Linked DNA regions of Homo sapiens: region 2 is linked to region 1. Evidence: fine-mapped expression QTL. A gene starts in region 1. The other region holds a variant in brackets. All regions are shown on one strand. Distances are between the middles of the regions. Region 1 holds the start of LAMC3 (laminin subunit gamma 3). Region 2 overlaps LAMC3 (laminin subunit gamma 3).

Region 1 (5,514 bases):
GTGTATGTGTGTGTGTGTTCGCTCTCTACATTCACAGTGTGGAGGCTCTCAGGTTCCTTGCTTTTAGAAGGATCAGAACCACTCTGCTTCTAAGGTTCTAGGCAGAGTTCCACGAGGGTGCACAGCTCAGCACAGGGCCTGGCACACAGTAGATGCACAGTAAACAGGAACTACCTCAAATCCAAAAACTTGGCCATTTCTCCCAACTTCCTCCCACCTTGTTTGTGCCTGGGCTGAGCTCTTTCCTTGGCCCCTGGGTTCCCAGGACACATGTGATACCCTTTGTCATGGAGCACTGTGTCTCCCCAACAACTCCCCACCCTGTCCCAGATTCCTTCCCCTGTGGCCTTGGGGTCCTGCCAGCTCCATCCAGACAGCTCCCCCAGCCTCCCCCCTCCCCACTGGCTTCCTGTCCCCTCCCCCTCGTCCCATTCAGAAGCCCCACCTAGTGATCCAGATAGGCTGAGAGAAGGTGACGTGGCCCCAGAAGAAGGGAGTTTCTGAGGTGGCAGCCAGTACCTGTGTGCTCTGCAGAGCGGGCTCACGGTCCTCCCCGCACCCCACTCCAATGTCACTTCCCAGCCCTCCCCAGGACACTGTCACCAGGCTGAGGTGGAGCTGACTCAGTTGATGGGTGGCGGAACTCACATCAAAGAGTTTATGCTCTGACCTCTGATGTCCATGGATGTCCACGCTCAGATGCTCACTTAGCAGCTCTGTGCCTTTGGGCAAAACAACCTCTCTGAGCCTCAATTTTCTCAGCTGAAACATGGGATACAGTCCCATCATCCCTAATCCAAACTCCTAGGCTCCAAATGTGTTTGGGAATTGAACATTTTTCAGCTTTTAGAAAGACGATGCAGGCCTTATACCATATATTGTGCTAATACCCCCAGTGGGGTCTGGGGCTGCCGGCTGTACTCAAATGAGATTTCAGTAGCAAAGCGAATGAATATTCATTCTCACTAGCATAAACATAGCTTATAAATAGCCTCAGGTCAGGTTTAGCAGCAAAAATGAGTTATAAAAATAATTTGAGTTTTCAAAGCTTTGGGAGGCTGACCTCGAAGATAAGGGAGTCTAACCAGTGATACCAGCCCCTCCTGAAAGGGCAGTGGAGGCTGCAACAGGAAAGACACTTGGCGCTTACCCGGCCACAGAGGACATGGGAATCGGGCTGAACACGGAGGGAGGAGAGAGCATTCCAGCTCCCTGCAGTGGGGGCAGGGGCTGAGAACCGGGGCTGGGTCCAGACTCCAGATTCTGATTCCTGGAGATCTAAGGGCTTCTGCACCTCGGCAAGTCATGAGCAGGGCAGAGAGGCCATGCCACCGGGCGCAGCTGCCCAGCAGCACGAAGAAACTTAGTCCTCCTCCCCAGAGGGTTAAACTTTGCCTGTGCAGTGATGAACATCACAGCTTCTATCTTCCAGAACCCACCCGAGGACTGCAGGCAGCTTCAGGGGTCCACTGAATACCTGAAGTTGACCAGAAGACCCAAGATCAGGAGCCCCTGCCCTAGAGGGTGACCAATTCAGTCCTTGGTGTGTCACCTCCCCAACAGTTCTGGTCTAGGATGGAAAACCATTACAGGGGATTATAATTGCAACCTAGAACCAAAGCTCAGCAAGTGACTCCCTGCCTCTCCCGCCCCACGGGGCACCCCTCAGTCTATCCTTCTGGCTATCTAGGGGTACAGGTCCTGTTTTTTTTTCTTCTTTTTTTCATTCTTTCTTTTTATTAAGAGATAAGGTCTCACTCTGTAGCCCAGGCTGTAGCACAGTGGCACTATCATATTTCATGCAGCCTCAACCTCTCAGTCTTAAGTGATCCTCCTGCCTCAGCCTCTTGAGTAGCTGGGACCATAGGTGTGCACCACCACGCCCAGCTTTTTTTTTTTTTTTTTTTTTTTTTTGAGACGGAGTTAGCTCTGTTGCCCAGGCTGGAGAACGGTGGTGCGACCTCGGCTCACGGCAACCTCCACCTCCCGGGTTCAAGCGATTCTCCTGCCCCAGCCTCCTGAGTAGCTGGAACTACAGGCACCTACCACCACGCCCGGCCAAATTTTCTATTTTTAGTAGAGACGGGTTTTCACCATGTTGGCCAGGCTGGTCTCGAACTCCTGACCTCAGGTGATCCGCCCGCCTCGGCCTCCCAAAGTGCTGGGATTACAGACGTCAGCCACCGCGCCCGGCCTATTTTTCTTTATTTTTTGTAAAGATGGGATCTCACTACGTTGCCCAGGCTGATCTTGAACTCCTGGGCTCAAGCGACCCTCCCATCTCGGCCTCCCAAAGTGCTGGGATTTCAGGAGTGAGCCACCGCACCCAGCCTAATTCCTATTTCTGAGCCCCTCCATCCAACACCATATCTGGGTCCTGCAGCCCAACCTGGGCGCACAGCAGCTCAGGCCTCAGCCTCAGACCCCCAGTGGAGTGGGGACACGGGGTGCGGTGGCGGTGCCCCCAGCCCGCGCTTACCTAGGCGGAGGGTGATGTTGACCGAGGTGGGGTACTGCACGCCGAAGGCCATGGACGGGCTCTGCCACCAGGTGCTCTCGTCCTGGCTGTGGAAGTCGGTGAGGTAGGAGGCGTTGTGGTGGCGCTGGGGGTCGGCGGCGTCGCAGCGCTGGCAATGAGCCCCCGCGCCCGCGGCGCCCACGTGGGGACAGAAGTCCTCGGGCGGGCTGCCGCACGTGTGCGAGGCCTGGGCGAGCCGCCCAAACGCCGCGTTCTCGAACACCGGCAGGCAGCGCTGCGGGCGCCCTGCGCCGTCATAGCACGCGCCCATGCCCGCGCCGGCCGCCCGCGGTGCCAGCAGCGCCAGCCCCAGCAGAAGCGCAGCCGCCGCCATGGTCAAGGGCACCGACGCCGCGCGCTCTGCCGGCCCCGCTCGGCTAGGGTGGGCGCGGACCGCGCGCTGGCCGCCAGGACCCGCCTTCCCCTGCGGGGCGGGGAGGCTGGAGGGAGGGGCGGGCGGCGGCGGCCCCACCCCACTAAAAATACCAGGGACCGCGCCGTCCCCGGGCGCCCACTCCCACCTGCTGGACGTGCCCGGCAGTGCGCGGCTCGGGAGTCTGCCCCAGAGGCGACCCGGGCCTCTTTGAGCCTCAGTTTCCTCGTCTGTGGAGTGGGGTCGGTAAAGATGCAGGCTCATTCTCGCCATTGGGAGGCTTCAATGGCTGCTCATTAAACAGAAACTGTTCAGCAGTGCCTTGGAGTCCTGAGATAAAAGGGGACAAGAGGATCTATCTCTAACTGATCGCTACCGTTTGCGCATCTCCTCCTAGCAATAAAGTGTGCCCTGGACAGGGTTGTGAGATGGCTCCGCATAGCTCCTGTCGCCCTTAACCCTGAAAAGCACTCCTGCTGCCGGCTGCGCTCTGTCCCCACAGCAAAGAGATTCTAACCTGACATTTGTGACAAGGGTACCTGGTCTTATCACAAATGTCACCTCAGAGAGGGCTTCCTTGTCTTCTGCCCCAACCCCCATAAATGCCCCCTTTACTCCCCATTTATTAACATTAGCAAATCGAGGGAGAGAAGTCATTCGATAAAATTTAGCAGCCAGGTCGTGCGCGGTGGCTCACGCCTGTAATCCTAGCACTTTGGGAGGTGGAGGCGGAAGGATAACTTGAGGCCAGGAGTTCGAGACCAACCTGGGCAAAATAGTGAGACCCTATCTCTACAAAAAAATACAAAAATTAGCCCGGCGTCATGGCACAAGCCTGTAGTCCCAGCTACCTGGGAGGCTGAGGTGGAAGGATCCCTTGAGCCCGGGAGGTTAGGCTGCAGTGGGCTGTGATCATGCCATTGCACTCCAGCCTGGCCAACAGAGTCAGACCCTGTCTCGAAAAAAAAAAAAAAAAAAAGGCAGCCATTCCCAGACGAACTCTAAGGAAAATAGAAATAAATTTCCTGGCCTGGCGCGGTGGCTCTCGCCTATAATCCCAGCATTTTGGGAAGTTGAGGAAGGCAGATCACCTGAGGTCAGGAGTTCGAGACCAGCCTGGCCAACATAGTGAAACCCCGTCTCTACTAAAAACACAAAAATTAGCTGGGTGTGGCGGTGCGTGCCTGTAATCCCAGCTACTCAGGAGGCTGAGGCAGGAGAATTGTTTGAACCCGGGGGGCAGAAGTTGCAGTGAACTGAGATCATGCCATTGCACTCCAGCCTGGGCAACAAGAGAGAAACTCCATCAAAAAAAAAAAAAAGAAAGAAAAGAAAGAAAGAAAATTTTTGGAAGCAAGATGAACTGTAGTGGGCTGATTCACTACCAGTTATTTACACATGATTAAAACAATACGGTTGTGGAAAGGACTACAGAATAGACCCATGGAATAAGTTAGAGATTTCAGAACTATATCTAAGTAGAGTTAGTATATGATATCACCACTGGTACCTAAGGTTATTTTGGAAGTTCTAGCTAATACAATAAGACAAAAAACTTAAAAGATATAAATATTTATATCTTCTACTTACCTGAACATACATCTAGAAAATCTAAAAGATTCTACTAAGACTATTAAAATTAATAAGAGCTCCGTAAGATGGCTGACTACAGGATAGAGTACGAAAACCAATGCCAGCAATAGGCATTTTCTGGCTGGGTGCGGTGGCTCACGCCTGTAATCCCAGCACTTTGGGAGGCTGAGGCAGGCAGATCACCTGAGGTCATGAGTTCGAGACCAGCCTGGGCAATATGGTGAAACCCCATCTCCACTAAAAATACAAAAATTAGCCAGGCATTGTGGCACACCTGTAATCCCAGCTACTTGGAAGGCTGAGGCACAAGAATCGCTTGAATTCAGGAGACAGAGGTTGCAGTGAGCCGAGGTCACGCAAATGCACTCCAGCCTATGCAATAGAGCAAGACCCTGTTTTTTAAAAAACAAAACAAAAACAAAACAAAACAAACAAAAAACTGATGCCAGCAATGATGTAGGAAATGGTAGAACACCTAATAATAAATCTGGTATGAAATGTGCAAGATATAAATGAATCAAATTATAAAATGCTACTGAGAGACAGAAAACCTGAAGAGACCAGCATCTATATTCACGGATTTCCAACTGTTTAAATATACAAATTCTCCCCAAGTTAAAATATCATTTAATGTAATTCCAAATTGTTTTTTTGATGGTGTTATGGAAGCTTCTTTGTTAAAGTTTTCTCTTATGGTCAAGAACATGATTGCAGCAGACTCTTGATGGTCCACGCAGCTACCCTGAGCTGGGCTGTGCACCCATCCAAAGCAAATTCATCTATCAGGCACAGGAAACATGGCAGCCCACAGGAATTCTAGGAACCCACAAAAACTGTTCTAATATCTTTAAAGTCAGAAGAAAAAAAAGAACTTTTAGGCTGAAGAACATGTTTTAACGTATGATATTAATATACCCGTCTTTAGATCAATGCAATGGTTAAATATAATTTTTAAAAATGTTAGTGCCAGGCACGGTGGCTCATACCTGTGATCCCAGCACATTGGGAGGCTAAGGCGGGTAGATCGCTG
Region 2 (5,000 bases), 31 kb before region 1:
GTACCATGGGTATACCATTAGTGATGTCTGCTGTGGGTGTGAAAGGGGTGTATTGACAGTGCTGCATGAGTAATGTCTATTGAGTGTGAAAAGGGAGGGCTGTGATAGGTCTGCCGTGGGTGTGAAAGGGTTGTGATAGTGCTCCGTTAGTGGTGTCTGTCATGGGTGTGAAAGGGGAGCGTTGATAATACTCCATGAGTGATGTCTGCTGTGGGTGTGAAACGGGAGGCCTGTGATAGTGCTCCATTAGCTATGTCTGCAGTGAGTGTGAAACGGGAGGCCTGTGATAGTGCTCCATTAGCGATGTCTGCCACAGCAGGTGGTAGTACGAGCACCATCTATTTACTATCCCTGGATTAGATGGTCTCTCCTATCATTCCAGTTCTTTCTTTTCAGGATTCTAAGCTAAGACATGTATTTTCTCAGCTTATGAATGATCAGTGGTGTTGAATCAAAGCACAAACAGTGCCATAAAGCTTTTGAGTAACTTCCTGTATGACAGATACATGGTGCCCCAGGAAGGGCACAGGGTGACAAGGTCACCCAAGTCCATGAAGACCGTGCCCCTTGCTCCTCCCCGCACTCCACAGCTTTGGTGCCTCATCAGTGAGCCCCCAGGTCACTTCCAGCAAGCTTACTGCTGGATTAGCTCACAAACCTGTCACATAGGTTGCCTTCCACATTCTCTTTGCAGGGGCAGCGCCCACTGCGGGGGTCACAGGTGTCCAGGCTGCCAGCGGGATTGCAAGTGCAGGGTCTGCCAATGAGACAGGACAAGAGGAAAATGTGCAATGAGCAAATTCAGAATGGCAACAGCCCATCCTAGGAAGGGAGCTTTCCCTGCTGCCAACATCAGGAGTGAGGCTGACGCAGGTAACTGACCTGGCTTTACTGTTCCCATCTTGCCAAGGAAGTGACCCATCCATCACTGGTACAGTGGTCCATCTTCCCACCCACCACACATCCATCCAGGATCCTTCCATCTGTCATCCACGCACTCACTCATCATCCATGAATCTTTTTTTTTGGGACAGAGTCACACTTTGCCACCCAGGCTGGAGCGCAGTGTCATGATCTTGGCTCACTGCAACCTCTGCCTCCTGGGTTCAAGTGATTCTCCTGTCTCAGCCTCCTGAGTAGTTAGGACTACAGGCATGCATCACCATGTCCAGCTAATTTTTGTATTTTTAGTAGAGACAGGGTTTCACCATGTTGGCTAGACTGGTCTTTAACTCGTGACCTCAGGTGATCCACCTGCCTTGGCCTCCCAAAGTGCCAGGATTACATACATGAGCCACCGTGCTCGGCCTCCATGAATCTTTCTGTCTATCCCCTCACTCCTCCATCCACTTATTCATCCTTCCTTCTTTCTGTCCAGCAGCCACCTATCCACCCATTCATTCACCCATCCATGCATCTTTCCATCCCTCCCTCCATCCATCCACTCATCTAATAAGACATGGTTCCTCCCTGGTGAATCCCAGTCTGGTGTAGACAGACAGATCACGCAGACCCTGTACCGCGATACGTGTTGTGGGAGATGTACGAGAGGCTGTGCCTGCACTGTGGGGCCTCTGACTCAGCCTGGGTGTGCAGGCGAGGGGCAGGTGGGAGGGAAGGTGTCCCGAGAGCGGGGCTGCTCAGCTGAGACCTGAAGAATGAGCAGGAGGCTGTGAGCCACAGGCTGGGGAGAGGGGGCAGGGGTGGGAGGTGTGGCACCTGCAAAGGTCCAGAGGACAGAGGGACCCCAGGGAAGCAGCCAGGCCCCATCTCATGGTCAGTTTTATGCCCAGAACCACCAAATATTTTACAAGGAATCAGAGCTCTCCTAGATATCCCCAATGTGTTTCTGCTGCCTCTCAAATATACAAAGATGCCCGTTATCAACCAAAGCAAGTTCACTTAAAAGTGCTTCTGGGCCAGGCGCGGTGACTCA[C/T]GTCTGTAATCAGCACTTTGGGAAGCCGAGGAGGGTGGATTACTTGAGCCCAGGAGCTTGAGACCAGCTTGGGCAACATGGCAAAACCCCATCTCTACCAAAAAATACAAAAATTAGCCGGGTGTGGTGGTGCACATTTGTAATCTCAGCTACTCAGGAGGCTGAGATGAGAGGATCACTTGAGTCTGGGAGGCGGAGGTTGTAGTGAGTAGAGATCGCGCCACTGCACTTCAGCCTGGGTGACAGAGGAGGACTCCATCTTAAAAAAAAAAATAGAGATAGTGGGCATGGTGGTGCATGCTTGTAATCCCAGCTACTCAGAAGGCTGAGGCAGAGAATTGCTGGAACCGGGGAGGTGGAGGTTGCAGTGAGCCAAGATGGCACCACTGCATTCCAGCCTGGTTGACAAAACAAGAATCTGTCTCAAAAAAAAAAAAAAAAAGCTTCTAAATTTATCATAGGTTTTTGTTTTGTTTTGTTTTTGTTTTTTGGCCATTGTATACTTTCTCAATCAAGTGATGGCAAATGTGTTGGGGTAAGGTCCAGACCCCAGGAGCCCCTGTCCCTCTCTCCCCTCAGCTGTCCCACTAGGTACCAAACTCGGTGCACCCAGATGACACTCAGCCTCTCCCACCCCGCTCCCCACACTGCGTGCCCTGCTATCCAGAGGCCCAGAGAACCCCGAAGGTCAGCCTCCACCTCTTCTTCCTCTTCCACCCCCTGGTCACCATGTCCTATTAGCTCCTCCTTGCACTGGGCTCTGGAATCTGCCCTGCTCTCCCTCTCCACAGTCAAACCCCCATGCAGGCTGCCCAGGCGTTCCTGCTGTAGCCTCCACGCAGCCTCCCCCTCACCCACTCCTGCTTCTCACTGATCCACGGCTCCTCCAGAGGCCTCCCGTGCCCCCCACCCCACCTCAAACACCTGTCCTTCCCCTCTCCCTGCACTTATGCAGCACCTCCTACAGGAAGCCTGCCCTCCACCTGCAAGATCCGCTGAGCTTCCACAGGGCTCAGCCTGGTCTCATTAAGGTCTGTTTTTGTCTCTTGGCCTCTCCAGGAGCTGAGTGTCTCTAGTCTTCACCAGGATTAGGGCGAGGTAGCTGCAGACAGGAAGGGATGGGGAGGGGAGGGACTGCTGACAGCCTGTTCCTCCTGCTTCTTGTCATTCAGTGCAATGTGTCCATACTGGGCCGCCCCTCGCCCTCACCTGCAGCCTCCCTCACTGAGCGAGTGGAACCCGGGCAGACAGCGGTCACACTTCCAGCCAGTCACCGTGGGCTTGCAGGCGCAGGTGCCTGTGTCATCGCACTGGAGGTGTAGGGAGCCTGGGAGAGGAAGGGCACAGGGCAATTGAGGCCAGGAAAGGGAGAGGGTCGGAGGCTGGGGATGTGGAGTCCACTCACCTGCCGACTGGCAGTCACAGGGCTGGCATGGCATCCGCGGGTCCCAGTGATAGAAATTCTCCTGACAGCGCTCACAGTGTGGCCCAGCTGTGTGGTCACGGCAGTGGTGACAGCGCCCGCCGTGGCCTGTGCTGCGGAAGAGCTCCCGATCAAACGTGCATTCCTCGGAGCGGCCACTGCAGTTGCAGGCTATGGGCAGGAGTGGGGAAAGGTGTGTGAGTCCCCTGTGATGTGGTAGGAGGCTGCATCTGTGTCAGTCAGCCTCCCTGTGCTAAATGAGCAGGCAGTGCAAAGAGAAGGGCAAGAGCATGGTCCAGAATGGAGTTCAGGCCCAGCTTGATCAAGGCTAGACATTGATCAATTGATTTTCCAAAACAGGACACTCTTAAGAGCAAAGGGGACACTGTTAGTAAATACACCAAAACAACAGGCAGAAAGAAGACCATCCCAGGCAACAAGGATATACACCCAGATAGATGGGCACCGATCAGAGGCTGGCTGCCTTCTGGAGTGGCAGCTTGGCTCTCTCCAAAATCTCCTGGAGGTCCTCCAAGCCATAATAGTGTGACTCTCACTATTGTGTGAGGTCACTCAGGGGTACAGAAAGCACAAGTCACCTTTCATTTCCCCCATTAAATCATTTTTAAAAGTCTGTGTGCAGGACTGGCTCTGTCTTGGCTCCCAGAGTGAGCTCAGGGGTGGATCCATGAAAGGTGCGGACCCATTTACACCTGCCGCCCTCGTGCTGCCCACAGCCCAGACGGCAAGCAAGCAAACCCCCTGCAGGTGCAGGGCTGAGACAGGAGAGGCTGGGGGCTTTGGGAGCCGAAAGAAGGGGCCCCTGCAGCTGTGCTGGGGTGGTGGGACAAGGCTTCCGAGAGGAAGTCATGGCCGCGCTGAATCTGAAGGCTGAGCAGTGAGGAATAGGCCAGGCAGAGGAAGAGGGGGCGGGAAGGGCGTCGCAGACAGGAGGCGAAAGCCCAGGGGATACCCCACATGCAGAGACAGACGCGTGGCCTGGTGCGGGTGTGCCATGAGGCTGGCTGCAGACGGCATGTCGTGTGATGGCAGGGAAGGAAGGACTTTGTGCAGTGGGGGGCCTGCAGTGCAGGGGCAGTTGTGAAGTCAGAGGCTAGCAGAGCTTGCTCCAGGGAGGCTGGGCTGCCGTGGTCAGTGGACGTTAGCTGGGAGCAAAGGGGGAGCCGTGGGAAGGTTTAAGCAGGGAATAGATGTTACTAAATTTGTCCTTTAGAAAGTCTTGGCCCAGTGCCATGGCTCACGCCTGTGATCCCAGCACTTTGGAAGGTAAGGTAGGAGGACTGCTTGAGCCTAGGAGTGTAAAGACCAGCCTGGGCAACAGTGAGAGCCGAGCTCTATAAAACATTGCTTGGCATGGTGATGTATGTGCCTGTAGTCTCAGCTACTCTAGTGGCTGAGGTAGGAGGAACACGCACCCAGGAATTCGAGGCTGCAGTGAGCTATGATTGGGCCACTGCACTCCAGCCTGGGTGACAGAGTGAGGCCGTGTTTCAAGAAAAGAGCCTTAGCTGCAGTTAGGGGAGGGCTGGGAACAGGGAGAGCAGGGAAGAGGAAGCTTCGGGTGTGCAGGGAGAGGAGGCAGGGCCAGGCCCAAGGCATCGGCTGCAATGGACAGAAGTT

The links. PIP is the estimated chance that this variant, and not a neighbour inherited with it, causes the effect.
Region 2: its variant is fine-mapped to the expression of LAMC3 in whole blood (TOPMed, PIP above 0.99).

The regions. Positions count from the first base shown.
Region 1 is chr9:131,006,553-131,012,066 of GRCh38, reverse strand. LAMC3 (laminin subunit gamma 3) reads right to left here and starts at 2,893. Exons shown (of 28, transcript NM_006059.4): 1 at 2,480-2,893. The coding sequence starts at 2,852.
Region 2 is chr9:131,037,394-131,042,393 of GRCh38, reverse strand. LAMC3 (laminin subunit gamma 3) reads right to left here. Exons shown (of 28, transcript NM_006059.4): 5 at 3,342-3,530; 6 at 3,146-3,263; 7 at 659-757. Among named protein-coding and RNA genes, the nearest start is that of LAMC3, 31 kb to the right of the region's middle. The variant C/T (reference allele first, on the strand shown) is at 1,937.